4 linked regions of the Homo sapiens genome follow. The protein of the gene in region 3 purifies or fractionates together with the protein of the main gene of each other region. This does not show direct contact. Each region holds a gene or a part of one and is shown on either strand. Other genes may lie near its edges. The genes, in order: RBL2, EDEM2, TXNDC11 and TXLNA.

Region 1 (7,364 bases), about 42 Mb from region 3:
GCCATCTTCTGCTCTAATGAATACTTCTATCACCTGAAATAAAAAATGTCTTGGTTCACTGAATAATTATTAAATATTTTTAAATATTTAGACAAGAAATTAGTCAAAATTACAAGTTGAAGTATTATTTTGAAACAGCCGCTCTTCCTTTTACTGTCTTTGTAAATAATTATAGTTCAAACTATGAATTATATAAAATGGTTTACATTGTGATGTATTTCAAAATTTTTTAATGAAAATACATGTTTTGTACATTGAGGTTGAAAAACATTACTCTTAAAATTTCATATAAAAATCTCTAAACATTTAATCTATGCCACTATAAAAATTAGTTTTGACTATCTTATGAGAGTTAAGATAAACTCATATGCTAAGTCAGTATCAAGAAATAGCTACCAGCCTGTAATCCCAGCACTCTGGGGGGCCGTGGCGGGCAGATCACGAGGTCAGGAGATCGAGACCATCCTGGCTAACACGGTGAAACCCCGTCTCTACTAAAAATACAAAAAATTAGCCGGGTGTGGTGGCGGCCGCCTGTAGTCCCAGCTACTCGGCAGGCTGAGGCAGGAGAATGGCGTGAACCCAGGAGGTGGAGCTTGCTGTGAGCTGAGATGGCGCCACTGCACTCCAGCCTGGGCGACAGAGCAAGACTCCATCTCAAAAAAAAAAAAGAACTAGCTACCAAATCAATGCTTTAACTCTATGCCTCTCTGTAACACATGAAAGAGAACTTTTTATTTTTTTTCTGACATTTTCAATGGTATTTAATTTTCATAAAATAAAAAAAGGCTGCTATACAAGATTAGCTAGTGACATGTGTGCTACTTTTTTTAAGCCTTCTCAGCTCATAAAAATCACAGTATTCTAAAAACTTTTATTAGATAGAGAGGAATCAAAGCTTTTACCCAAAATAGATCTTTCATACAATATTAAAAGAATTTACATAGGTCTTAAGATTCTATTTCTTTTCTACTCCACAAATAGAGATTAACTATGTAAATAAAAACAGAATAAATGTTCTTAGATGTTAACTTGAACTAAATGACTAACAACAGGAAGTTGGTCTCATCTACAATATCCCCATTAGTATCATATTTTTAAAAATACCTTATAAAAATGATAAAGAGGCACATCAAATATTTCAGTAATAAATGGAAAATTCCCAGGAGGCTTATAAGAAAAAGTGACGACCTCAAGGCAGCAGGCCAAGAGAGATCTGTGGAACGCATCTTGTTCCAGAATACCCTATAAAATAAAGTTATTAGCATTAGAAACATTTACTTAGTCTAAAAAGTCATTTCATACCCAGTGAACTTAAGTGAAAATACCAAAGAAAGTCTCATTTTCTGAGTGAGTGCAAAGTGTGTCCTTATTTTCTTACAAAACCTTTCTTAATTATATAAATAAAGCCCATTTTTTAGTAGAGGAAATATATAAAAGGAATGTATGAGAATTTTAAAACCTTACCTATTATAAAATGTATCTTAAAAGAGATTACATCTCTAACCAAAATACACACACACACTGATGCTTAGAAGAACAATGACAGGGAAAGATGTTTCAAAACAGTATTTACAGTAAGTGCTATAAAAAACTGAAAGGGGGACCGGGCGCAGTGGCTCACGCCTGTAATCCCAGCACTTTGGGAGGCCAAGGTGGGCAGATCACCTGACGTCAGGAGTTTGAGACCAGCCTGACCAACATGGTGAAACCCCATCTCTACTAAAAATAGAAAATTAGCCAGGTGTGGTGGCACACACCTGTAGTCCCAGCTACTCAGAGGCTGAGGCAGGAGAAGCAATTGAACCCAGGAGGTAGAGGTTGCAGTAAGCCGACGTTGCACCACTGCACTCCAGCCTGAGCAACAAGAGCGAAACTCTGGCTCAAAAAAAAAAAAAAAAAAAAAAAAGGAAAAAAAAATATTGAAAGGGGCCAGGCAGGTGGCTCATACCTGTAATTCCAGCACTTTGGAAGGCCGAAGCAGGCAGATCACCTGAGGTCCAGAGTTTGAGACCAGCCCAGGCAACACTGTTCAAGAATCACTTGAATCTGGGAGGCAGAGGTTGCAGTGAGCCGAGATTGCACCACTGCACTCTAGCCTGGGCAAGAGAGTGAGACTCTGTCTCAACAACAAACCCAAAAAAACAGAAAGGCAGGCAGGCAGGTGACTGGCTAGATGACCATGTACCAAAAGTGAATATGTTTATCATAGGATGACATTAATCATAGATGATTTTTATTTTGTTCTTTTTGCTTATAATTTTCCAACATTGTCAATAATTATTATTTTTTAATTAAAAGCTACTGAAGCACCAAAGGCACAGGCAACAGGCCAGGTGCGGTGGCTCACGCCTGTAATCCTAGCACTTTGGGAGGCCAAGGCATGCGGACCACCTGACGTCTGGAGTTCAAGACCAGCCTGGCCAACATGGCAAAACCCCATCTCTACGAAAAATACAAAAATGAGCTGGGCATGGTGGCACATGCCTATAATCCCAGCTATTTGGGAGACTGAGGCAGGAGAATTGCTTGAACCCAGGAGGCGGAGGTTGCATTGAGCCGAGATCGTGCCACTACACTCCAGCCTTGGCGACAGCGCAAGACTCCATCTCAAATAGGTAAATACATACATACATACATACATAAAACAAAAGCACAGGCAACTAGTGAAAAAATATATTGGATTTCATCAAAATTAAAAACTTTTGTGTATGAAAGGAGACTATATATAAAGTAAAAAAAACAACCCACAGAATAGGGCAGGAAGGAAATTATGTTTCATTGCGCTGATCAATACATTGGTTATTTTACTCACAGATAAATCCATGTCTCCTAGTCTTTTTTGTTCCTGCTCAATAACAGATTCTAATACTTTATAGTAAAGCATCTCCGCAAAACGAAAATGTTTGCTGGCAATTTCTGTAGAAATAATAAAAAAAAAAACCCCACAAAAATGGCACACAAAGAAAATAAAGGCCCATTCCTCCTCCTTTACTCACAAAATAAAATTCAAAACCAACCCAATACTTTAGATATGCACACTTCTTATGATTGGTGTTTTAATTATCCCTAAGATACCTTAATTTTCTTCATGGTAACAGTCACATTTTTCTAAAATTATTAAATGAAATTTGCACATAAGGAACTGTAATATCATTTAAGACTAACACCCTTTTTTTTCCTCTATGTTTGAACAAAACAGACCAATGCTAAGAGGTATGTAATTGGCTTACTAGTCCACACCTACTTAGTTCCAATTCCTGACAGCAAACAATTCCTAGGCCAGGTTTGGGCCCATAACAGTGATATCTCCTGTCCTTATTCTCAATATGTTGAAGAATCACTACACTTCTATTTAATTTCCAGTTTACAAAAAAAACCTAAAGATTTGCAGATAAAAAAGCATCAGAAGTCCAATATAATAAAGATACCATTCTAAAATTTCTATCTTACTGAGAAGGGCTCAGAAATCAGTTGGTTGACCAGAAAAATTGGACAGCCATATCCTAGCCTTCAGTCTAAAGTCATAAATCTTTTCCTCATCTTTCTTAGTTAGTAAGAAATGACTCCATTTAGTTAAACTTCAAACATAAAAGCAGAATAACAATGTTAAACCTTACCTTTAGCACAATTACTGAAATCCTCGTCTGGCTGGAAATGCTGAGAATATATTTCAAACATTTCTTTCAGTCTGTTAGCAATAGCCTGGGTTGGATCTCTGGAACATGTCCTAAAAAAGGTAATGAGAAATAACATAATTTAAAGGTCTTGTCAAGTCACAAGGGGATAAAATGTTTCTATAATTTCACTAACATGTAAATATAAAACACTCTGAACAGAAACTATACACTTCCCAAATTAATCCAAGAGATCCCATACTTCCTTTTCAAAGGTGGTGGTATTACCAGTTTGAATGAAAAAAAAAAAAACTTTTCTTGTGGGAGCTACACCTTTTATTTTATATATATATATTTTTTTTGAGACAGAGTCTCGCTCTTTCACCCAGGATGGAATGCAGTGATGCAGTCTTGGCTCACTGCAACCTCCACCTCCCAGGTTCAAGTGATTCTCCTGCCTCAGCCTCCAAGTAGCTGGAACTGCAGGCACCTGCCACCACGCCCAGCTAATTTTTGTATTTTCAGTAGAGATGGGGTTTCACCATGTTGGCCAGGCTGGTCTCGAACTCCTGGCCTCAAGTGATCCACTTGCCTCAGGCTCCCAAAGTGTTAGGATTACAGGAATGAGCCACTTCGCCCGGCCGGGGATACACCTTTCAGTGCAGGAAGTTTAGCAACCTTGGCCTGGGCCCATTCGATATCTATGACTGTCCCCCACCTGTCCTACACATCCCCAGTCACTGATTATCCCAAACTTGCCCTTAACTATTTCCCTAGAGGACAGTAAAACTCCCATTAAGAACACCTGGAAGAAAATAGAATGAAGGGGTGTAAAACCCATACTACAGACTCACATAAACTGTTCCTGGCATTCTACATTTTTTTCCCGCCAACGAGGTTTACTTCAGTCTTTCTATTATTAGAAAGCAATATATGTTCAATCCAGAAGCATTATACAAATTATCACCATGTAAGCTTTTTGTAACAACTGTTTTTATCTTGATCACAAATATATATATAATTATATACATATTCTTTGTGAAAATGAAGCAAGTTTAAAAAATTATAAAGAGAATAAAAATCAATTACAGTCCTGCTAGAGATAACTACTGAATACATATACAAGCAGAATTTTTCTGGGAACACACACACACATACCTTTCAACAAAAATAGCACCCTTTATTTTACCTAGTATTTACTGGTAATATTTATTTAACCCCACTAATGGTACCTAAGATTTAAAATGCTGTTATGCCTAGTTAGAAACTGTAAAGCGATCTGGAAGACACAGAGATTAAGATGGCTTCTGAAATGTATTTACGAAATGCTTCTAAATTCAAGGCAAACAAGGTGCATCTGAAAAACATGACTCAGGAAGAGGCCACAGAGATATAACTTGTTGAGTATAAATCACAATCAAGTTTATGAATAAAGCAGACTTCACTAAAATGTAAAGGAAAAGTAGTTGGCATTTAAGAAGCCTGGCTATGAGTGGGAAATTACTTATGTGTACATATAGGGTCTTCTTGATATACCATCATCAGAAATAAAATGGGGTCCTTTTGGGTCTACGTTATCATATCATAAGGTTTTAGGACTGAGAGGGACCTTGGAGGTAACTTTTCAAATCAACTTGCCAAAGGTTATGCATAAGATGATGAGATTCAGCCTACTGGGCTTTTAATTAAAACTCAATGATATTCCTACCAGTCTCAGGGAGATCAAAGGAACTAAATGCAGTGAACTTCCTTTCCAGGATAAGGATGTTTTATAGAGCTTACAAAAGTTACAGTGGTTTTTGTCCTGCTTTATGAACATGTGGAACTCTATTAATCTTTTCAAATCTGAGTCACCCTTCAGAACTTACCTCAGGTTCAACCCTCTTCATAAAGTCCTTTGACAATTCCCATCATCACTGAGCTTCCCCCCGCCCCCACCTCACCACTCCCTGAAATCTTGAAAGAACAGTTGGCAATAAGACACTTTTGTGTTTTACTCTACACTGTCTGGTGTTATTAGTTACTGTGTCTTGTATTATATTAAAGAAATCTAAGGAAAGAAGATCTTCCACTTATACATCTTATTGCTAGGTCCTCTATAGACTCACAACAGGACTGAGTATACAATTGATAAAAAATTATTCATGGGTGAATTAAGGCATTAATAATGAAAGAATAGGAAATTGGAAAATGGTCAATAACCAAATCTTAGAAAGCAGACAGGGCTCAAACTAACCTGAGAATCTGTTCCAGTTTCTCACTTGGTGCATTCCTGAGGCCTGTCAGCATGGTGTGAAGACGACTCAAGCTATGCGTAGCTGTAGAAACTGGAGTCACACAAGGGCTATTCTCCTTAATGTACCTAACACCAGTTAGTGGTGTGGAGATTCTAAGTGCTTTGGACTAAAGAAAAAAAAAATTACACAGAATTAATAAACATTTTTTAAAGAACATTATTTTAGGCCAGAAAGACTTTAATTCACTTCACAAATGGGACTTCAAGCCAGTAAGACTTTATCTTTACAATATCAATAAATTTTAGTGACTCAAATGTCACCATTCTTGGAATTTAAACATAACAGCATTAAGAGCCGCCAATATCCATGTGAAGACGAAGGTGTGAAAGAATAATTTGTATTTTAGCTAACTAAAAGTTTGTCTCTTAAAAGTTAAAACTCTAAAATAAGGTACAGCTCCCTACATTCCCTCTTGTAAAACTTATGCTCGGAGGCAAAGATAAGCATTCTGCTCACCTGAAAAATTAAGATTATTCTCAGCTCTGAGAAACAGAATTTCACAATTCCCATCTACTGCTATTTTTGCAGACACTCAAAGATAAAAGAAAATTGTGATTAAATTTGGTTCCAAAAAAAATCCATGATTTAACAAAAGCCTACTGATATGGTTTGGCTATGTCTGCATCGAAGCCTCAACTTGAATTGTATTTCCCAGAATTCCCATGTGCTGTGTGAGGCACCCAGTGGGAGGTAATTGAATTATGGAGGCCAGTCTTTCCCGTTCTATTCTTGTGATAGTGAATACGTCTCGCGAGATCTGACGGCCTTATCAGGGGTTTCCACTTTTGCTTCTTCCTCATTTTTCTCTTGCCACCGCCACCTAAGAAGTGCCTTTCGCCTCACACCATGATTCTGAGGACTCCCCAGTCATGTGGAACTGTAAGTCCAATTAAACCTCTTTTTGTTCCCAGTTTTGGGCATGTCTTTATCAGCAGCGTTAAAATGAATTAATACACCCACCATCCAAATATTCAAATTTGCTTCAGAGACAGATAATAAGTTGAACATTCCCTAAAAAGGCAACTTGATGCAGAACAGCCTTCATTGGTCTTCCTGCCCCTCCTCTACCTTTGGTTACCAGAATCTATCACAGGTTCTCCCCCTAAGGTAGACAGGTCTTCAGAGAAATAAGTTAAAGTCAACATTCTTGACAATAAATATGGAGAAGATGTGACTTGGTGTCAAAGGAGCCAGTAAAACATCTTTCTGATTTTTCAAATAAACTCTGAAAGGTTAAGATAGCTTAACAATGTCTTTTAATATTCAAGATAAAATTTCCCTGTGTATTAAATGTACTTATTCTAATTTTTTAAAAAACCTAGCAAAACTTTCACCTGGCAACAGAGCCAACTATTCAAGTTTCATAAGATATAGAAAAGCACAGAAATTTACTGTATACAGAAACAAACCTACATGTTTTCTCTATGTCTTAAAGTGTAATACAACTAAG
Region 2 (7,364 bases), on a different chromosome or scaffold from region 3:
TGGCACAATCTCAAGTCACTGTAACCACCGCCTCCTGGGTTCAAGCAATTCTTTTGCTTCAGCCTCTTGAGTAGCTGGGATTACAGGCGCCTGCCACCATGCCCAGCTAATTTTTGTATTTTTTAGTAGAGATGAAGTTTCGCCACGTTGATCAGGCTGGTCTCAAACTCTTGACCTCAAGTGATCTGGCTGCCTCGGCCTCCCAAAGTGCTGGGATTACAGGCATGAGCCACTGTGTCTGGCCTCTCTCCACAGTTTGGTTTCCCCATCTATCAAATGAGAATCATAATTTCTACTTCCCTACCACATCGGGTTTTGGAGAGGCTAAAATGAGGTCAGGAAGGAGAAACTGCTTAGAGAACGTCCAACACTTTTAAAACGAGAGGGATTTGTTTTGTGGCTAAGCTGTGTCCAGGGCTGCAGGTCAAGCCTCCATGTTTTTGTCTAGTGGGGCAGTAACACCAGGCTCAGTAGCATCAACTGTACACTGTGTTCCCTTCAGGGTGTGGTGGAGGCTCTGAGGACTGTTCACACCCAGACACGTCACACTGTGCTTTCCATCACCTCTTGGCCATCTCACTTATTTATCCCTTTTCTTTCTTAATTTTTTTTTTTTTTTTTTTTTCAGACAGGGTCTTGCTCTGTCGCCCAGGCTGGAGTGCAGTGGCGTGATCATGGCTCACTGCAGCCTCTCGAACTTCTGGGCTCAGTTGATTCTCCCACCTCAGCCTCCTGAGTAGCTGGGATTACAGGCAGATGCCACCATGCATGGCTAAATTTTTTTTTGTAGAGATGGGGTTTCACCATGTTGCCCAGGCTGGTCTTGAACTCCCGGGATCAAGTGATCCATCTGCCTTGGACTCCCAAAGTGTTGGGATTACAGGCGTGAGCCACCACACCCGGCCTCTTTATCCTTCTCACATAGCACTTGCCTCTCCTTTGGGGGAGAGCTGAGGATAGCGGGTGAGCTAGGTTCAGGTCTCACTCATGGCTCATGGCTCATGGCTTGAGCGTCTCCTTGCAGACATTGTGTCCTGTGTGATTCATCCCTGGAGGAAACTCTGGAAACTCTGCCTAGCTGCTCCTCCTTTATAATTTAATTATTTTTGGTCATTGGTCATTTTATAAAAAAAGGTCAAGAAACAGGATTTTGTCACTCCTCTTCTTTTTATTACAGCCTGACTTTTTCTGAAATATTGCTTAGAGCCCTTCCTGGTTGTGACTTGCTCTCCCGCTGGTGCCTGCCAGATTGCAAGTTTCTTGTCTGTGGCAGACACAGTTGCTAGACCCTGTGGTTCTTGGAAGTGTCGACACCTTTGTTCACAGTTTGGTGACGCATAGGCTGCTCTGGAGTTGTTTGACCTTTAGGCCCAGAGAGGAAATCTCTGCCTCTGGCTGGTTGTCCAGTTCTCGTCTTGAACCAGAAGGCACTTGGGTGCCACTTGGGTGGGGCGGGCAGAGAACTGGACTGGGGCTGGGGTGGGCACAGGGGAGGCGTTCCCATCCCAGCTCTGTTTGACTCTCTCTGTGTGACCTGTGGCTGAATTACTTCTTTACAGGCATGGTTTTCCCTACCTATAAATCGAGGGTCATACTATATCCGTGGTTTAGTGGTTTATATCCTATTTTGCTTCCCTTTAAAAATAATTTAGCCCCTATACTCTTTATTTAAAGCAGAGATCTTTATTTAAAGTCTATGAATGGCTTTGTTTATTATTATTATTATTTTGAGACAGGGTCTCGCTCTGTCACCCAGGCTGGAGTGCAGTGGTGCAATCTCAGCTCACTGCAGCCCACGCCTCTTGGGTTCAAACGATTCTCGTGCCTCAGTCTCCCAGATAGCCAGAATTACAGGCGTGCACCACCACGCTTGCCTAATTTTTGTATTTTTAGTAGAAATAGGGTTTCACCATGTTGGCCAGGCTGGTCTCGAACTCCTGGCCTCAAGTGATCTGCCTGCCTTGGCCACCCAGAGTGCTGGGATTATAGGCGTGAGCCAAAAGTCTATGAATGGCTTTGAACGGGGCTTACTCTTGTCATTGTGCCACAAGCCCCACCACTTTCTGTGGCTTAAACCCTGCCTGCATCACAATAAGTTACCTGCCTGGGCTTTGAAGGCGTAGTGTAAAATAAATAAAAATAGGTAAAGCTCTCTAGCTAAAGCGAGTGTGTGTGGAGCACAGCCTGCTCCCTGCCCCCTCATGATGAGCAGGAACCCAAGGTTATGCAGAGCAGTGTTTGACAGCATCTGGGCTGGGTGGCTGCTCAGGGCCCTCCAGTTATGACATTTATCTTTCTCTGGCTCAGACTCTAGCAGGATACCCAGGAGAAAGAGGGAAGTGCTGGCTAAGGTCCCAGGCTTTGGGCGTGTATCAGAACTATCCCTATCCCCCTGCTCCTGTCCGGGATCATAATTTGTCGATTGTTCAGCCTTTCAGACCCCCACTGGCATGCCATATGGAACAGTGAACTTACTTCATGGCGTGAACCCAGGAGAGACCCCTGTCACCTGTACGGCAGGGATTGGGACCTTCATTGTTGAATTTGCCACCCTGAGCAGCCTCACTGGTGACCCGGTGTTCGAAGATGTGGCCAGAGTGGCTTTGATGCGCCTCTGGGAGAGCCGGTCAGATATCGGGCTGGTAGGTTCGCTGCTGCCCTTCCTGTTTGAGTCCCTGCTTACGAGGCCCAGGGCTCTGAGCAATAAGTTGCAGTCAAGCCAAGGAAAACTTAGGGTGACCTTGGGAGTGGTCCAGGATTTGGGCTCAGGACACCAAAAATAGACCAAGCCTCCAATTCAAGTTTGGCTTGGAGTGGGGAGGAGAGTGGGAAAGCACGTTTCTGGCAGGCAGCAGGGGCTGCATTCAGCTTTGACCAGTTGAGATTCTCTGATTTCTAGGAAGAGGGTCGTATGTTTCATGCCCCTGACTCACTTGACGGCTTCAGATCATCAGCTCGTCCGGCCTTCATTTTTAGCGTCTATCTGTATTTGCTGTGTTTCTTAGGACACCGGTTCTGAGAGATACTGAGTGGCAGTTGCATGAAAAAATGAGTCTTGGCCAATTAAGTTAGGGGAATATTAGATATAATATCCCCCCCTTTTTTGGAGAGTCAGAATGCACATGAGCAGAATAAAAATCCTCTAGTAAAGAAATCTATTCAACTTTGTTTAATTTAACATTTCCCAAACTTATTTAACACCAGAGCTTCCCTTTATCTTCCAGTACTATTAACCCATGGAAATTGAACACACTTTGGACCAGATGATCTCTAAGGTCAGTTTCAGCTTCTAAATGGGATAATCAATAAGATTAACAGTAATTGAGCCAAAGCCATCCAGGACATAACACTGGATTTAGTCAGAACTGGATTCAAGCCCTGGCCTTGCTACATCGAAACTGTGTGACCCTGAGCAAGTCACTCAACCTCTCTGGTCCTCAGTTACTTCAGCAGTAACGTTAATATATTAATACCAACTTTGCTGAGTCACTCTGACTTAGGAAGACTGCATTTAGGTCTAGGCACATTTTATGCAGTCTGGTGCTAATCCAGCTTGAAAAGTAAAGCTTGTGTGAGGACTCCCCGAAAATCCCTTAAGAAGGTGCCCCCCTAAGGCTGGGTGCGGTGGCTCACGCCTGTAATTCCAGCACTTTGGGAGACTGAGGCGGGCGGATCACCTGAGATTGGGAGTTCGAGACCAGCCTGACCAACATGGAGAAACCCCATCTCTACTAAAAAATACAAAATTAGCCGGGCGTGGTGGTGCATGCCTGTAATCCCAGCTACTTGGGAGGCTGAGGCAGGAGAATTGCCTGAACCTGGGAGGTGGAGGTTGGGATGAGCCGAGATCGCGCCATTGCATTCCAGCCTGGGCAACAAGAGCGAAACTCCATCTCAAAAAAAAAAAAAAGGTGCCCCGCTGGAGACCTGTAGTAAATCCCTTAGTCCATCTCAGGCAGGTTTTGCTCCAGCAGTGGGACCGTAGTAGACTCTGTTGGTGCCATGCCCATATCCTCTCAACTCTTAACATTTCCATGCACACTGGCCAGTCTTCCAACTGCCATCACCTGCGCCTCTTTGCCTGTGGGTCTCCTCTGGTGCCTGGAGCCACTCTGCTTGCCTTTGGCTGAGGGTACCAGGATTTAATGCTACCCATGAGTAGCTCTCAAGCCGGTAACTGATACTGATGGGAGTTGGTGGATAAACATTCCAGTTCCCTGCCCCTTGGGTGGGATCACTCCGAAGCTGGAGCTCTACACTGAATTCCTAAGCTCCCCAGCAAGATTGAACTCCAGTTCCCATGGTGGAAACCTGCCTGATGGCATACCCCTTAAATGCCGCCTCCCTTGCCCTGCCTCACTTCCCCCTCCTCTACTGGTGTTTACAAGGACTTACCTTCCAAATCAACTACTTTCAGGCAGAATGAGGTTGTGCTCCTGGGGGGACACAAACCAACGCGGAACAGTTAGCTATTTCTTTGAGTACCAGATGAAGTTACCAGCTTCCATGAGGGTCTAAGCCATATGAAAAATACATATATTTGGCTGGGCGCAGTGGCTCACGCCTGTAATCCCAGCACTTTGGGAGGCCAAGGCAGGCGTATCACCTGAGGTCGGGAGTTCGAGACCAGCCTGACCAACAGGGAGAAACCATGTCTCTACTAAAAATACAAAAAATAAAATAAATACAATAAAATAGAAAAATACGTATCTTTGTTTATTTTTTTGAGACAGAGTCTCCCCCTGTCGCCCAGGCTGGAGTGCAGTGGCACGATCTCGGCTCACTGCAACCTCCCCCTCTTGGGTTCAAGTGATTCTCATGCCTCTGCCTCCTGAGTAGCTGGGATTATAGGCACACACCACCATGCCTGGCTAATTTTTGTGTTTTTATTAGAGACAGGGTTTTACCATGTTGGCCAAGTTGGTCTCGGACTTCTGACCTCCAGTGATTTTGCCCCCCTCAGCCTCCCAACGTGCTGGGATTATAGGCATGAGCCACCGCGCCTGGCCGGCATTGCCAATTTTTCACAGTCTCTACAGAGACTGAACAATTAAAAAAAAAAAAGTCAAAGGATACAAAAAAGGGTACTCAGTGACATTGGTGAAGTCCCCTTTTGCCCCTGTCTCCAGCTATTCGGTTTCTCTCCTTAGAACCACTCTGTCAGCTTCTTGGTGGATGTTCTTATTGAGTTAATTTATGGAAATACGTAAAGCACGTCTGTGTCTTCAGATAGTGGAATCACATGCTGGGTGCTGAGAAATCAGACAGATTGCGGCAACAGCAAATTCTCATCTCCCATCTCACACTCACTCTAGGCAGGACATAAACACTCCAAATCATTTTTCTTTTTCATTTTTTGCTCAATGTGTATAATTAAGTCCTCATAAATGTGCATGAGATGCATCTCTACTATGCAGATGTACAGGAAGGCTGGCCATGATCCAGCATTGCCCTTCCCTCTCAGGGTCTGCATGTTTCCCAAGAAGCACTGGGGCACCTGCCCTGCATCTCCCTGGGCAGTCAGGGTTGGGGGTGAGTAGATCCTTCTTTGGCCATCGGCCTTCCCGTTGGGACCGTGTGTCTTTCTCTCTCTCAGGTCGGCAACCACATTGATGTGCTCACTGGCAAGTGGGTGGCCCAGGACGCAGGCATCGGGGCTGGCGTGGACTCCTACTTTGAGTACTTGGTGAAAGGAGCCATCCTGCTTCAGGATAAGAAGCTCATGGCCATGTTCCTAGGTAAAAATGGCAGAGTAAGGGAGCTTTTCCCCTCATTTTTCTTGCTGATGTGTGATTTGTTTAAAAACTTTTTTTTGAGACAGAGTCTTGCTCCATCTCCCAGGCTGGAGTGCAGTGGCACAATCTAGGCTCACTGCAACCTCTGCCTCCCAGGTTCAAGTGATTCTCATGCCTCAGCCTCCTGAGTAGCTGGGCATGTGATGGTGTGGACTACAGGCGCACACCATCACATCCAGCTAATTTTTGTATTTTTAGTAGAAACGGGGTTTCACCATGTTGGCCAGGCTGGTCTCAAACTCCGGACCTCAGGTGATCTGCCCGCCTTGGCCTCCCAAAGTGTTGGGATCACAGGTGTGAGCCACCACGCCTGGCCTGAGTGCCTGCAGAATCAGTTCTGAATTCAGAGTCACTATGGACTTACACTGCCCACTTCATGCCCACTACAGCACTTGATGCCTTCTTGCAAAAGCCAACTGAAGCGTGCTGCATTCTGTGTATGTAGCCCTGGATTTCTTATCTCCTGGCCATTGCACATGGCATCTTCTTTGCCTAGAATGTCTTTTTTCCTGTCTTCCTATGTCCAAATTCTTTTCACCCTTCAAAGCCTAACTTAAATGTCGCCTTGCCCAGGAAGTAGCTTGATCCTTCTACAGAATTTGGGACCTTCAGCATCTTTCTTGCAGTTAGCTCTCATCAACAGTTACAGCTCTACAAATTGAATGCAGAATCCATGCCTTACTCATCTTATGTTCCCCACAGTGCTTTACATGTGGTAGGTAATAGATTAATACCTGTTGAATAAATACATCTTACCCGCCAGGCCCTTAGACACTAGCAATCTTGAGGAATTGTTGAGCACCTAATTACTATTATTATTATAGCTACAGTAGTCCCCCGTTATCCACAGTTTTGATTTCCATGGTTTCAGTTATCCATGGTCAACTGCAGTCTGAAAATAGGTGAGTACAGTCAGATACGATATTTTGAGGCTGGGTGCAGTGGCTCACGCCTGTAGTCCCAGTTTTTTGGAAGTGAGGATTGTTTGAGGCCAGGAGTTTGAGACCAGCCTGGGCAATATAGTAAGACCCCCTCTCTAAAAAAACAAAGATATTTTGAGGCACTAAATTTACATAATTTCTTTTTTTCCTGTCTCTTACCAAAAAGACAAATTCACATAACTTCTATAACATATATTGTTATACTTGTTCTGCTTTATTATTAGTTATTGTTGTTAATCTCTTCCCATGCCTAATTTATAAATTAAACTTTTTCGGCTAGGCACAGTGGCTCATGCCTTTAATCCCAGTGCTTTGGGAAGCTGAGGCGAGAGAATTGCTTGACCCCAGAAGTTCAAGATCAGCCTGGGCAACATGGTGAGACCTCGTCTCTACAAAAAATAAAAAAAAATTTGCTGGGCATGATGGTGCGTGCCTGTAGTCCCCACTACTTGGGAGGCCAAGGTGAAGGATTGCTTGACCCTGGGAGGTCAAGGGTGCAGTGAACCGTGATCATACCACTGCATTTCAGCCTGGGTGACAGAGTAAGACCCTGTCTCAAAAATAAAAATTTTTAAAAATTTAATGAATTAAGAATTCTCATAGATGTGTATGTATAGGAAAACAGTAG
Region 3 (7,364 bases):
TACTTGAACCTTCCATGTAAAGGCAGAACCTCCAAGTTACTGGCCAAAAAGTGGGGAAGAAATCTGAAAATGGTCTTAGTGGTCCCTAAGCAAAAACTGGCTTCTTACTACAAATATTAAAATACAAACATCTAATATCCAGAGGAAAATGTGGGGGTAGAGATGGGGTAGAAAAGTGTGTTTTTGCCCAAATACTACCTAATAGTTCCTGGGAGTCAATACTATGTGCCAGACAACAGTTTATGTTACAGACACGGAAATGGGATGGAATGTGACAGAGAACCCACAAATCACTGTTTGTGCATGTTTGCTATAAATCCCCATTGATTATGGCCCAAGAACTTTAGAAGGAAAAAGGAAAGCTCTCTACTGATCAAATCTCCTTTACCCATTTTACTTTCAACAAACTTCAAGCCAATCACCCTGAACAAAGTCCAAAGTCCTATCTCCTATCTCCAAAACTCTTTGAGTCAGATTTTTAGACATTACTTATCATTCACAGCAGGGTCTGGGCTGTACTCTAGTACAGCCTAGGTCGAGACCAGCCTGGCAACATGGTAAAACCCCGTCTCTACTAAGAATACAAAAATTAGCCGGGCGTGGTGGCAGGCACCTGTAATCCCAGCTACTCGGGAGGCTGAGGCAGGAGAACGGCTTGAACCCTGAGGCGGAGGCTGCAGTGAGCCGAGATTGCACCACTGCACTCCAGCCTGGGCAACAAAAGCTAAACTCTGTCTCAAAATAAAATAAAATAAAATAAGATAAAATAAAACTCTTTCCGTTTTTCAGCCCTCTTTGTGACTTTAGAATTGTGGACATGGGCGGTAAAACCCTGTCTCTACTAAAAATACAAAAAAAATTAGCTGGGCAGGGAGGTGGGTGCCTGTAGTCCCAACTACTTGGGAGGCTGAGGCAGGAGAATGGCGTGAATCCGGGAGGCCGAGCTTGCAGTGAGCGGAGATCGCGCCACTGCACTCCAGCCTGGGCAACAGAGTGAGACTCCGTCTCAAAAAAAAAAAAGAATTGTGGACATGGGACTGTGTACTTGTAGTAATTTTCTTCCCAATAGAATAGATGGTAAGATACACTCTGGACTCTGCTATGCCTCCAGATGAAACGATAAGAAATTTTGTGTATTTTTACAAAACACTCTTACGATATCTGAAATGCATTGGAGTAATTCGTACTTTTAAAAACAATGCTGTAAAATGTGTAATGACATGAAAAGATGCTCAAAAAAGTGAGAAAAGCAGTTTAGGAAATAGTATTACTGCCTGATCCCATGTTTAGCTTTAAAAAGGGGGGTGGATTATCCAGATCTTTCTTTTTTAATTTTTGCTTATCTGTATTATCTGAATTTTCTATAGTGAATATCTAATACTTTAATATAGAAAAAATGCAAAATTCATTTATAAACTGGCAAACTAAACTGGAATGAGAGACGCTATTTAAAAAGTTCTTACCTCCGATGATACAGATATATTACAGGAAAATAAAAGAAGTGTTTCTGTTTTCTGCATTTCCCCTGGTTCCACCAACAGTTAATTGCCACAAACAACACCTGCAGAGCCAAAAAAGGTTTTCAAATGACTATGAATAACAACTGAAAAGTTACCAAGATTTAAAAGATGAAATTTAAAAATAGAATGATTCCTCTCTCACTGAAACAGAAACTATGAAAAAAACTGTTTTGAGTTTTCAAAGGTCATAATTTATCACTAAAACAAAAAAGAAAGACATACTCTTATCTATGATGTCCAGGCAGGACTTGGACCGTGTTTACCAATCTTACCATGCAATACAGTTCAAAAGATTTCTGTGTGTTTCCAAAAATAAACCCACTTTTTTCCCTACTGAGTACATGGAATAGTAAGCTCTCAATTTGGAAGGAGCTGAAATTTTTTTTTTAAAAAAAGCAGCAGTCCCTGGATTGCACTACAACCCCCACCACTACGTGATGGTAAACAAACTGCTTCACCCCTTATGCCTGCAGTCCTGCTTCAGAAAAACAGGGCTGACAGCATCGCCTTGCAAAGTGGTTGAGAATTGGCATGGGGCCTGGCACACCAGAATATCATTATTATTATACTAATGCCATCACTCAGAAGGACATACTGCTTAGGCTGACAGTAAGGTAGCTAATTCACACTTATTAATAAAACACAATAGATATCCCTCTTGTGCCCAACATGGGCAACGTGAACTTTGTTCTCTAAATTTGGAAGGCTCCACAGTTTCTAAGAAAAACCAAATGACAGTTCCAAATGAACTTCTGGAACTCAGCTGCCTACACACGTTACTTCACATCAGTGGTTCTGAGCAGGAGAGTCTTAGAAATCTGTGGGATGCTTTTGGCTTGCTACAATGACTGGGGGAAGCTACAGTGCATACGTAGGGCAGGGGTGTTGGTAGATGTCCTGCTACACTCAAACCTGCTTTGCACACGGAAGAGTCGTCCATAGCATTCCAGAGGAGTTCAAAACGCCTGCCAAACACTGATGTTGGGGAAAACCTGTTATTATCAAAGCCCAGTACCTAGCTCCATTTTACATGTGAATCTAAAGCATGCTTTTTGTGTTCACTGAATTTTTCAGGAATGCAACTTCTATGTAAACTGAGAGCAGAAAGGGCTTTGCATAGTTCAGGATTTTACCAAGACTGTTCACCATTTAGGATAATCAATTACTAAGAGCAATGTCCATGTGGCAGGTAAGTCACCAACATATCACCTTTATCAGTCTACGTTTGTAACTATCCCATTCAGTGATTCTACATAAAGGTATATGGACCTGTTCTGACTGTGCACTTACATACTAAAATATATATCATTTAGTTACAAATTACTTTCTTCCCCCCTCACCTCTATGTTACAATCCGTGCATTAGATTATTTTGAAATTACATGTATAGGAAAACTTTATCATCTATGAATTCCTTTTTAGGAAGAAAAAGGGACATCATAAAATACTTATTTTCTAAAGCACAACTGGGGTCCACTGGGCTGAAAACCACTGCCATAACAGGTGACTTATTTGCCTATATATCTTTCTTACCTAGCCCAAAGGTGGCATTCCTTATCTGCTGAATATAGTTCTGGTCCATATATTAAAAAGGTCGGCCTTGTTACAATGCAGTCATATCATACATACATTTTCTTACCTAAAATACCTAACTAGCAAGTATCAAATGGATATGCAAGAACTAGGATTTTCAGTCCCTCTACCTTTTTCAATGCTGAAACCAAACAGTATGGCACCCCAGGATAAGCATTGGCTTGTGTTATGAGATTCAGAATCTGCTCCCACACTTGCCTTGGAGTACAATCGCCACAATTGGAAATCCTTTCTGTTGCTTTATAGAAAGCTCTGTAACTTAGAAACGACTCCTGGAGTTCACCTTGGCAAAGTCTGCCCGTTGGGCAAGGTGTCTCTGTGGGGACATCCTGCCCTACATATAGGACTGACAGTCATTTGATTCTTAAGCTGAATGTGAGCATTACCTGATCTGAAAGCCGACTTGCTGCTTGCTCAATTTCTGCCCTGGCAGCGATGGACTGTCCACACCAAGGGGCATAGAAGAAGAGCAGTACCACCTCTGAATCCCGTCGAACGTACTCTGCATAATCCAGCTGCCCCTGGAAGAGGTCAAGGACTGGAGACCTCAAGGAGAAAAAGCTGACAGGTGGCTTTGCTGGTATTATCACATCTTTTGCTCGACTAAAAAAGAGCAAACACAGAAAAGATTGCTTAGTTTATCTTCTTCTAAAAATAGCTCTGTGGAAGTAGAATGAAGCTTAAAAGGAAAATCCTCTTTTGAATAAGAAAATGGAGTCCCAAAATCACTGCCCTAGAAAGGCAACATCTGGCTGAGCAAATGCAAGACATGAATAATACGTTGGAAACAATTCTCTGAGATTCTGTCCCCTAGGTGTAGGCTGGAAGGGCAGTGGAGAGCAGAGAAGGATGTCTCTGAATAATCCATATTCCTGCTCCCCACATCCCAAAGACTTCATCCTCCTTTTTCTGCAGCCTGGCTCTCCACAAAAGCCACTTATCTCCAGGGCTTTAGAGCCACCAGCATGCAAGCTCAGAATTACGGTGAGGGAGCATGTAAACTACCATTAACAAGATTTCCACGGGAGATGCTTACAATCAACTCAACTTTGAGAAAACATTAAGCTTATTAGCTGGAGTTGGCTTGTACTTATCCAGGGCATTCAGGTAACAGTAACAATTAAACAATAATATACATTCCTCCAGATATATATCATAATCCTAAGACTAATGAAGATAAGTAACAAAGCAACAGCCTATTTAACTGGAAAATGGGCTTTTTGAACACTTGAGCTTCCCACAAGAAACAGATCAGGAGGAAAAAGAAAAGAACGCTGAACAAACAAGTGGTCAGAAGTAACTTTCCCCATCAAGACCTAAAGATCTAGGCCCAGGCTGCATCCCACCAAGTAGAAGGGCCCTAGTAAACACCCTGAGCTGTCCATGCATCTACACTCACATACCACAAACCATTAGGGCAGCTTTGCTAAGAAACAAATGAGACCCAATTATGCACTATCTAAACGAGATAAATAGAGAACATAAACATGGAAACCTAAAACGCGATGAGATTAACCCCAAAGAAAGTAAAGGAGACCAGGCGTGGTGACTCAGCCTGTAATTCCAGCACTTTGGGAGGCCGAGGCAGGCAAATCTCCTGAGGTCAGGAGTTCAAGACCAGCCTGGCCAACATGGTGAAACCCTGTCTCTACTGAAAATGAAAAAGTAGCTGGGCGTGGTGATGGGCGCCTGTAATCCCAGCTTCTCGGGAAGCTGAGACACAAGAATCGCTTGAACCCGGGAGGCGGAGGTTGCAGTGAGCCGAGATTGCACCATTGCACTCCAGCCTAGGTGACTAGAACAAAACTCCATCTAAAAAAAAAAAAAAGAAAGAAAGTAAGTAAAGGAACAAGAAAAGAACAAAAGCCAGACGGTACAAATGGAAAACAAGGAGCACGAAGGTAGACTTAAACCCAACTACCTCAACAATTACGTTAAATATAAAAGGAGAGGCCGGGCGCGGTGGCTCATGCCTGTAATTCCAGCACTGTGGGAAGCCGAGGCAGGCAGACCACGAGGTCAGGAGATCAAGACCATCCTAGCTAACATGGTGAAACCCCATCTCTACTGAAAAAAATACAAAAAATTAGCCGGGCGTGGTGGCACATACCTGTAGTCTCAGCTACTCGGGAGGCTGAGGCAGGAGAATTGTGTAGGTTGCAGTGAGCCAAGATCATGCCATTGCACTCAGCCTCGGCAACAGAGCGAGACTACGTCTCTCAAAAAAAAAAAAAAAAAAAAAAAGGAAGCAACCTAATTAGGAGGAGCAGACTGCCAGACAGGATAAAGCAAGACCCAATTATGCACTATCTAAACGAGATATATCTTAAATATAAAGACACAGGATAAAGGCATAAGGATGGGAAAAGAAAAACTATGTAAATAGTGAGCATAAGAAATCTGGCATGACTCATGAGGTAAAATGATAAACTGGGGTATATTCTTACCCATTTACTTAAATGTTACTCCACAATAAAAACGAAAAGCAAAACCTATTCATATGTACTATAACTTGGATGAGTCTCAAAATGATTATGCTGAGTGAAAAAAGTGCTAAAGAGTACATGCACTATGACTGCATTTATATGAAATTCCAGAACAGGCAGAAGTATCCAACGGAGCAAGTCACCTATTTATTCACTCAAACTAATATTTTAACCTTCAATCAGAGAGCTTTCAGTCTATGCAGAATGCCTTCATAACCTGAAAAAATCACTTACACAATTATTCAAAAATTCTTTACTGAGCAGCTGTGACTGTGCTTTGGGCACAAGCACTAAGGCTGCGGCAGCTAGCACTGCGTGTTGTCGAGGAGACCACTTTCTAGGGGAGGAAGACAGGAAAAACATCAAATGTGTAAACAATAAAAATATACTAAATGCTCACTATGTGAAAAATTTAACAAGGTGATGTACAGAAGGGCATGGTAGCTCCTCTGATGGAGTGGTGGCTTGGGAGGTGCTATAATTTAAGCTCTGAGACCTGAATGACAAGAAGATAGCCACCTAAGAGGTGGGGAGGGCACTACAGGAAAAAAAAAAAAAAGACACGTTTTCAAGAGATCCAAAATTCTGCTCTTTGGAGAAATTACTTTTCTACCATTCAAACTGCACATGGCCAAGAGTCGTGGCTCACGCCTGTAATCCCAGCACTTTGGGAGACAGAGGCGGGTGGATCACATGAGGTCAGGAGTTTAAGACCAGCCTGACCAACACCGGGAAACCCCATTTCTACTAAAAATACAAAATTAGCTGGGCATGGTGGTGCACACCTGTAATCCCAGCCACTTGGGAGGCTGAGGCAGGAGAATCGCTTGAACACGGGAGGCGGAGTTTGCAGTGAGCCAAGATCACGCCATTGCACTCCAGCCTGGGAAAAAAGAGCAAAACTCCATCTCAAAAGAAAAAAAAAATGCAATGTAAGCATCAAATAATGCAATCTGAGGAAAAATGTAGGTCTGACAGTCAACGAAAGGATAAAGAGCAACTCAGTAATTTTGCTCTGCATATTCAGAAGCATTCCTAAATGAGCCAGATAAAGTACAAGGCCAATCAAAAATCAAATATTGGCCAGGGAGAAGAAACGCTCGCCTCTACTCCATCAGAAACACTGGTGAGTTTCTATTTAACTCATCAATCTGCTTCACGCTTTAGAGAAACTATACATAGAGCAAAGATTTCCTGCAGCTATGAGGGGTATGTCTCGGGTACAAAAAACTCGAGTTGGTTGCAAATAAGAAGGCCTGTTGTTGCTGAGCCAGTAGCATGTGCCTATAGTCCCAGCTACTATACTCAGGAGGCTAAGGCAGGAGAATTACTTGAGCCCAGCAGTTTGAGGCTGCAGCATGCCATAATTGCACCTGTGAATAGCCACTGCACTCCAGCCGGGGCAACATAGAAAAAAGGCCTGTTGAAACCCCAATTTTCCTATGAAATTCACACCCTACATCACTTCCTTGCAAAGACCATTCGAGGCAGCTTTGAAATTACAAAATGGAATAAAGCAAAATAAATACATGTATACATACATATGTATCTACACACAGACAATTTTTTTTCCCTCTAAATCAAGGTAAAAGAAAGGTGAGCAGGATGAAGAGACACAGGTAAGTAAAGATTAGATGCCCAGAAACGCACGATTATTCACTGTGGCTCAACCTCAAATCAACCTTTTCCATATTAGCTGGTTTGAATTCAGCCAAGCCACAGACATTGAAAAGAGCAGACATTTATTTCAAGCCTGGAGCTGTTCA
Region 4 (7,364 bases), on a different chromosome or scaffold from region 3:
GATTCTCCCCCTAGAAAAATGCAGGCACATGGCAGGCGCGGTGGCTCACGCCTGTAATCCCAGCACTTTGGGAGGCTGAGGTGGGCGGATCACGAGGTCAGGAGTTTGAGACCAGCCTGGCCAATATGGTGAAACCCCGTTTCTACTAAAATACAAAAATTAGCCGGCGTGATGGTGTGCACCTGTGGTCCCAGCTGCTTGGGAGGCTGAGGCAGAGGAGTCATTTGAACCTGGGAGGCGGAGGTTGTGGTGAGCTATGATCGCGCCACTGCACTCCAGCCTGGGCGATGGGCCACAGAGCAAGACTCCGTCCCCAAAAAAAAAAAAAGGAAGAAAAAATGCAGGCACACATGCACACATGTAAGTGCTAAGTGCCATTCTGAAGCAAGTCGGATCTCCTAAGGCCTATTCTTCCAGATTTCAGATTAATGTGCATTTGTCCCCTCTGTACCCCCAGAGACCAAGCTGTTAAAATTTAGTAACACCCAGGGTTTGCAAAGTTGTGCAGAATTAGGCACTCAACACTTTTGATGGGGAAGGCACACTGCCCCCTCACTGGAAGGCAATCCAGCAAAATCTATTAAAATGAAAAATCTGCATATACTGTGACCTAGCCATTTCAATTCCATGACTTATCCTACAGATAAGTTCTATATAACTGACCAGTGATAAATATAACAAGAATTTTCACTATAGTTCTATATGTAATAATGAAAAATTGTAAACAACCCCCAAAATGCTTTAACTAGGGCACTGATATAATATATCCATATAATGAGAAGATAGCCCTACACATACTGATAGGGAAAAATGTTATGTAAAGTGAAAAAAAGGCACAGGATATGAAATGGTACATGTATAATAATTTCATTCTAAAAACTACATGTAAGATTTTACATATAAAAAAGAAAGTTAAAAGGCTGTATTTAAACTTGGTGTAACCACAGACTGACCTCACCATAGAAGCAGCAGAACATGGGAAGGACCCAGGTTCCTGACTGACCAACGTCTGGGACAAGAGCTGCTTGTCAGAGCCAGGCCTCCGCTTACCAGGGGACTGTCATTTCATTGAGAAATACTAACGCCAGTGCATTATGGATTCTCTTAGTACTTTATCCTTCACCTTATCTAATACATGTCAAATGATTACAAGCAGTACTCTCTTAACGTAAGGCATTATTGAGAAAGTGTATTTCTATGCCACAAGCCTGCACTACTTTTTTTTTTTTTTGGACACTGAGTCTCACTCTGTTGCCCAGGCTGTAATGCAGTGATGCAATCTCGGCTCACTGCAACCTCAGCCTCCCAGGTGCAAGCAATTCTCATGCCTGAGCCACCTGAGTAGCTGGGATTATAGGCATTTGCCAGCACACTCGGCTAATTTTTGTATTTTTAGTAGAATGGGGTTTCACTGCGTTGACCAGGTTGGTCTCAAACTCCTGGCCTCAAGTGATCCATCCACCTCAGCCTCCCAAAGTGTTGGGATTACAGGTGTGAGCCACCACACCCAGCCTTGCTTTTTTACACTGATTTCATGTTGAAATTGTAATGTTTTGGATATTGGGTTAAGTATATTACTAAAATTAATTTCTGTTTTTTAGTGGCCAGAAGATTTTTAATCACTTATGTGTGCCACTGCGCCTGGCCCTAGCCTGCACTACTTTTTAAGAGGAAAGCCCATGAAAGAAACATTAAGTGGAAGTCAAGGAAACCAGAGTCACCTGTTCCAGGGGGCCCAGGCCTACCTTGAGGGAGCGGTTGTGCCGCTGCAGCTCACGGCATAGGCTCTCAAGCTTGCTGCGGGCCAGGACGGCCTTGCTGTGCTCACCGCGCAGGTGGTCCTTCTCTTGCACCAGCTGGCTCTGCTTTTTCTGTAGGAGCTTCATCTGCTTCTGTGAATTCCGGTGCTCCTCCAGCTGGGGACAGGGATAGGGAGGGCAGGTGAGCATCTTGTGGGGCCTTCCTGGTGGGGGGATCACTATGCAGGTCTAGGGTCTCCTGAGCTGCCCTGACCCTTACCCTCTCAGGCCAGGAGCACTCTCATGGGCTGATGCTGTGCCGGTGCTTACACGCTCCTCCCATGAACTCACAATAACCCCAAAGGCTCCACCGTAGGGACAGAGAAATGGTAACTCACTAGGGCAAGCAGGGGCCACACAGCCAGCAGATGCCAATTCCTATTCCAGCTCTGACTCTGGGCCACTAGAGCCACTTCAAGCTGTTGCATTTCCCCAACTTGCTGGACACTCATGCCCGAGGATGAGACCACCTGCTACCGTACCTTGTGCCTATTAACAGACAGACCCCCATCGCTCCCTCGCATTCCTTCAAAACGTTAGCGCTGCGTTCATCAGCGCTCTCCCCAACACAATTACTTTTCTCATTTGTGGCCACTTCAGTATCAACAGATAATCCTTCTAACTCCCTGGCCTCACAGTCCATCACCTCTTCCACAAACCCACTCCTTTCCCCAGCTCAGTTCCCCTCCCATGACCCTATCCAGGCCTGTACAACAGAAATATAATGCAAACCACATAAGTAATTAAAAATATTCTACTGGCCGCACTAAAAAAGTAAAAAACAGGTGAAATTAATTTTAGTAATATATGTATTTAACCTAATATCCAAAACATTACAATTTCAACACGGAATCAATGTAAAAAAGTGAGGCCGGGAGTGGTGGCTCATGCCTGTAATCCCAGCACTTTGGGAGGCTGAGGCAGGCAGATCACTTGAGGTCAGGAGTTCAAGACCAGCCTGGCCAACATGGTGAAACCGTTTCTACTAAAAAAAAAATACAAAAAAGTAGCCAGTTTGGTGGCATGCGCCTGTAATCTCAGTTACTCAGGAGGCTGTGAGGCAGGAGAATCGTTTGAACCTGGAAGCAGGACATCACGCCACTGCACTCCAGCCTGGGTGACTGAGACACTCTCTCACAAAAAGATGTTTTATATTCTTTGTTTTTGCTTAAGTCTTCAAAAGCTGATGTGTATCTTACATTTATAGCATGTTCAAATTCAAACTGGCCACATGTCAATTAGCTAGAGACGAATTTATCTTGGACAGCGCAGATCTAGACTTTGTCACTACCAGAGAGCACACCCACTATCTCAATTTCCAGCATCCCAGTCCAGGACTACCATCACCTATCTTTTTAGCTCATTCCAATCAGTATCTGTGATCCTCAGAAAGTCTCTTACCCTATAGGACCTCCAATCCATTGACTCAACCATCCTTCCACTCTCCTTTAAAATAACTACATTACCTGGCTTGGATTTCTTACACCCTCAACTCTCTTGGCCCTTCCCCAGTAGTACTGCAACCCTAGTAAAGCACCTTCCTGCTTTACACCAGTACTATAACAACCCTACTTGAAGAGTCTCACTTTAAATTCATGGCCACCAATTTCAGGAAGACCAGCAATCCCAATACAATGCATATGCTATTCACACTCCTCTCCTTCCAGACAACTATTTCATCGTTCTCATCAAATCTCAAAACACAGAAGAAACTAGAGAATCAGGGGCACAAGCTGCACATCTACCAGTCCACCTGCCCCGTCCTCTCCTCCAGTCACACAGACCTAGCCATGTGGTTACCACAGCCAAGCCCCCTTCTTGGGCAGGCCTCAGCTCCCCTCCTCTACTCACAACACCACTCTAGCAACTCATTTCCTCTCTTGCATCAGCAATTTTCCCCTGGCTGGATCACTCCAAAAGGGTGCTTATCTTCCTTATACCTTTTATTTAATCCTTACAAGAATGTCATTAGGCAGGTATGACATTCCCCATTTTAAAGATGAGTAAAGTTCCTTACAGGAAAATATTAATAAATGTGTGTGGAATGAATTAATTTTAAAATAAATACTTAGAGGCCAGGCACAGTGGCTCACACCTGTAATCCCAGCACTTTGGGAGGCTGAGACGGGCGGATCACGAGGCCAAGAGATCAAGACCATCCTGGCCAACATACTGAAACTCTGTCTCTACTAAAACATACAAAATTTAGCCAGGCATGGTGACATGCACCTGTAATCCCAGCTACTCGGGAGGCTGAGGCAGGAGACTCGCTTGAACCTGGGAGGTGGAGGTTGCAATGAGCCGAGATCGCGCCACTGCACTCCAGCCTGGTGACAGAGCGAGACTCTGACTCTGAATAAATAAATAAATAGGCCAGGCGTGGTGGCTCAAGCCTGTAATCCCAGCACTTTGGGAGGCCGAGGCGGGCGGATCACGAGGTCAAGAGATCGAGACCATCCTGGCTAACACGGTGAAACCCCGTCTCTACTAAAAAAAAAAAAAAAAAAAAAAATAGCCTAGCATGGTGGCGGGCGCCTGTAGACCCAGCTACTCGGGAGGCTGAGGCAGGAGAATGGCATGAACCCAGAAGGCGGAGCTTGCAGCGAGCCGAGATCGTGCCACTGCACCCCAGCCTGGGCGACAGAGCAAGACCCCGTCTCAAAAAATAAATAAATAAATAAATACATACATACATACATACATACATACATACACAGGCTGTGACCATCAATGGATAAATCTGTTAGTTCAAATTCTGACAAGGGACCTGATGATGGAAGAATCTGGCTGCCCCACCCCCAACCCACTGAACAATGTTACAACAAAGTGGGAAGAGCATGCTTTGCATTTATTGTGATGGAACATGAAGTACTTATGAAGAATTCTTGTCAAAAAGTTGAAGCTGAATTGGATCAAGCTTTAGAGCTAACTTCTACTTCACTTACATGTACCAGGAGGTAAAGAAGTAAAATGATACCACAGAGATGACAAAGCTAGAAGGGGGCATCCTACAAGACAGCTAGTCTAGTTTCTGTTAAAAGTCAATGTCATGGGGAATATGAGGAGGCAGTGACAAGAAGACTGCTCTGGAGTAAAAGGAAAAAGTATCAAGTGACTAGTGTTAGTTTTATTAACTGTGATAATGGCTCTATGCATCTGTATTTGAGGAAGAAGCATCAAGATCACAAGGTGTCTTGGACTCAGGCCAGGAACAAGGGCTCTACCACCTTGGAATCATTCTTTGAGAAATTTCTTTCAAGGAATATGCAGTTTCTCCTCTTGCTGCACAGCCCTGAAGAGGCTGGCTGGAAGTGATTCCCCATTTAACAGATAGTTCAGAGAAAAGCTGAACAGGAATTAAGCCACCTACTTGACTCTGCACCCCCAACCTTACACCAGGTGGCATGCTGATTTTCCCAACGCAGGGAAGGTGCCCGCGGAGGGGGGAACTGACCAGTTCAGCATACTTCTTGCACAGAGCAGCCAGCTTCTCCTCTGGGGTACTCAGAGTATTCAATGTCTGCATCAGCAACGTGATCTCCTTCCCTGAAAAGCACAGGAGCAAAGACATGCACCCTCTTCTCCAGGTGTCCCCTCCAGGCCTGGGCTCACACTCATGAGTGCTGAAGACAGCCCTCCCCATCATACTTTATATTTTGCTTGTTGATTAGCTGCCTTCCTTGCCATAAGGACCAACTCAATCCTGCCCTCACTATAGCCCCAGTACTGTCCATAGTACCATCACAGAGGATATGCTCAACAAATGCTTATCAAATGAACGACTGTACCCTAGTGAAATCTCCTTAGTAGGCACCATTGGCAGGAGAAAAAAACTGCCTGCTCTACCAATAGAAGAAAGGTGTCCCACTTATGAATTCAGGGCTACTGTTTCATACTGTTTCAATGCAAGGAAGGCCCACCCTCCTGATAGAGGTAGGATCCAAAAAGGAATAGGTATCTTAGCCTCCTTGAGAAATACTAAACTCTTGTCAACAGAGTAGCCAAACAGTGAACTTTAAAATGAAGATACTTTCGGCCAGGCAAGGTGGCTCATGCCTGTAATCCCAGCACTTTGGGAGGCCGAGGCAGGCGGATCACGAGGTCAAGAGATCGAGACCATCCTAACATGGTGAAACCCCATCTCTACTAAAGACATACACAAAAAAATTAGCTTGGTGTGGTGGCACGCGCCTGTAGTCCCAGTTACTCCGGAGGCTGAGGTAGGAGAATCGCTTGAACCCAGGAGGCGGAGGTTGCAGTGAGCCCAGATCGCGCCACTGCACTCCAGCTTGGTGACAGAGCGAGACTCTGTCTAAAAAAATTAATTAATTAAAAAAAAAAGGCAGGGTACAGTGGCTTACGCCTGTAATCCCAGCACTTTGGGAGGCTGAGGCGGGCGGATCACGAGGTCAGGAGATCAAAACCATCCTGGCTAACACAGTGAAACCCCGTCTCTACTAAAAAAAATACAAAAAAATTAGCCGGGCATGGTAGCAGGAGCCTGTAGTCCCAGCTACTCGGGAGGCTGAGGCAGGAGAATGGCGTGAACCCAGGAGGTGGAGCTTGCAGTGAGCCGAGATCGCGCCACTGCACTCCAACCTAGGGACAGAGCGAGGCTCCATCTCAAAAAAAAAAAAAAAAAAAAAAGGCAGGGTACGGTGGCCCACGCCTGTAATCCCAGCACTTTGGGAGGCCCAGGTGGGCGGATCATGAGGTCAGGAGATCGAGACTATCCTGGCTAACACAGTGAAACCCTGTCACTACTAAAAAAATACAAAAATTAGCCGGGCATGGTGGCAGGCGCCTGTAGTCCCAGCTACTCGGGAGGCTGAGGCAGGAGAATGGTGTGAACCCGGGAGGCGGAGCTTGCAGGGAGCTGAGATCGCGCCAGTGCACTCCAGCTTGGGTGACAGAGCAAGACTCCATCTCAGTTGGGGGTGGGGGGTGAAGAAGATGATACTTTCCATGTATGTGACGTTAAGATTTTTTCCTTTTTCTTTTTTTGAGATGGAGTCTCACCCTGTCACCCAGGCTGGAGTGCAATGGCATGATCTCAGCTCACTGAAAACTCTGCCTCACGGGTTCAAGTGATTCTCCTGCCTCAGCCTCCCGAGTATCTGGGATTATAGGCACGTGCCACCACGCCCGGCTGATTTTTTGTATCTTTAGTAGAACTGGGGTTTCACCATGTTGGCCAGGCTGGTCTCGAACTCCTGACCTCATAATCTGCCTGCCTTGGCCTCCCAAAGTGCTGGAGTTACAGGTGTGAGCCACTCTGCCTAGTCGTCCCTAAGATTTTTTAAAGTTCCTCTTTAAAGTAAGAGGATACATAAGGGGAAAAGGGAATAGGAATAAAACATGGATATAATGACACTCGACTTAGATTCTAGATTCTTTTTTTTTTTTTTTGAGACAGAGTTTCACTCTTGTCACCCAGGCTGGATGTAGTGGCACAATCTCAGTTCACTGCAACCTCTGCCTCCCGGGTTCAAGCCATTCTCCTGCCTCAGCCTCCCAAGTAGCTGGGATTACAGGCGTGTGCCAGCATGTCCAGCTAATTTTTGT

The links.
Region 1: the proteins of TXNDC11 (region 3) and RBL2 purify together in Homo sapiens (affinity purification with mass spectrometry; 3 studies listed by BioGRID and IntAct, with this or other methods). This does not show direct contact.
Region 2: the proteins of TXNDC11 (region 3) and EDEM2 purify together in Homo sapiens (co-immunoprecipitation; 4 studies listed by BioGRID and IntAct, with this or other methods). This does not show direct contact.
Region 4: the proteins of TXNDC11 (region 3) and TXLNA purify together in Homo sapiens (affinity purification with mass spectrometry; 3 studies listed by BioGRID and IntAct, with this or other methods). This does not show direct contact.

What each region holds. Positions count from the first base shown.
Region 1 is NC_000016.10:53,458,107-53,465,470, reverse strand, and holds part of RBL2 (retinoblastoma-like protein 2), read right to left. Parts: intron 6,021-7,364; coding exon 5,854-6,020; intron 3,731-5,853; coding exon 3,621-3,730; intron 2,920-3,620; coding exon 2,816-2,919; intron 1,246-2,815; coding exon 1,108-1,245; intron 34-1,107; coding exon 1-33. UniProt on the Homo sapiens protein: Key regulator of entry into cell division. Directly involved in heterochromatin formation by maintaining overall chromatin structure and, in particular, that of constitutive heterochromatin by stabilizing histone methylation.
Region 2 is NC_000020.11:35,130,016-35,137,379, reverse strand, and holds part of EDEM2 (ER degradation-enhancing alpha-mannosidase-like protein 2 isoform 1 precursor), read left to right. Parts: intron 1-2,430; coding exon 2,431-2,642; intron 2,643-5,596; coding exon 5,597-5,738; intron 5,739-7,364. Other genes in the region: MMP24-AS1-EDEM2 (ER degradation-enhancing alpha-mannosidase-like protein 2), read left to right, coding at 2,431-2,642, 5,597-5,738. UniProt on the Homo sapiens protein: Involved in the endoplasmic reticulum-associated degradation (ERAD) pathway that targets misfolded glycoproteins for degradation in an N-glycan-dependent manner.
Region 3 is NC_000016.10:11,732,519-11,739,882, forward strand, and holds part of TXNDC11 (thioredoxin domain-containing protein 11), read right to left. Parts: intron 3,716-7,364; coding exon 3,499-3,715; intron 1,562-3,498; coding exon 1,464-1,561; intron 1-1,463. UniProt on the Homo sapiens protein: May act as a redox regulator involved in DUOX proteins folding. The interaction with DUOX1 and DUOX2 suggest that it belongs to a multiprotein complex constituting the thyroid H(2)O(2) generating system.
Region 4 is NC_000001.11:32,182,506-32,189,869, reverse strand, and holds part of TXLNA (alpha-taxilin), read right to left. Parts: intron 5,346-7,364; coding exon 5,254-5,345; intron 1,917-5,253; coding exon 1,746-1,916; intron 1-1,745. UniProt on the Homo sapiens protein: May be involved in intracellular vesicle traffic and potentially in calcium-dependent exocytosis in neuroendocrine cells.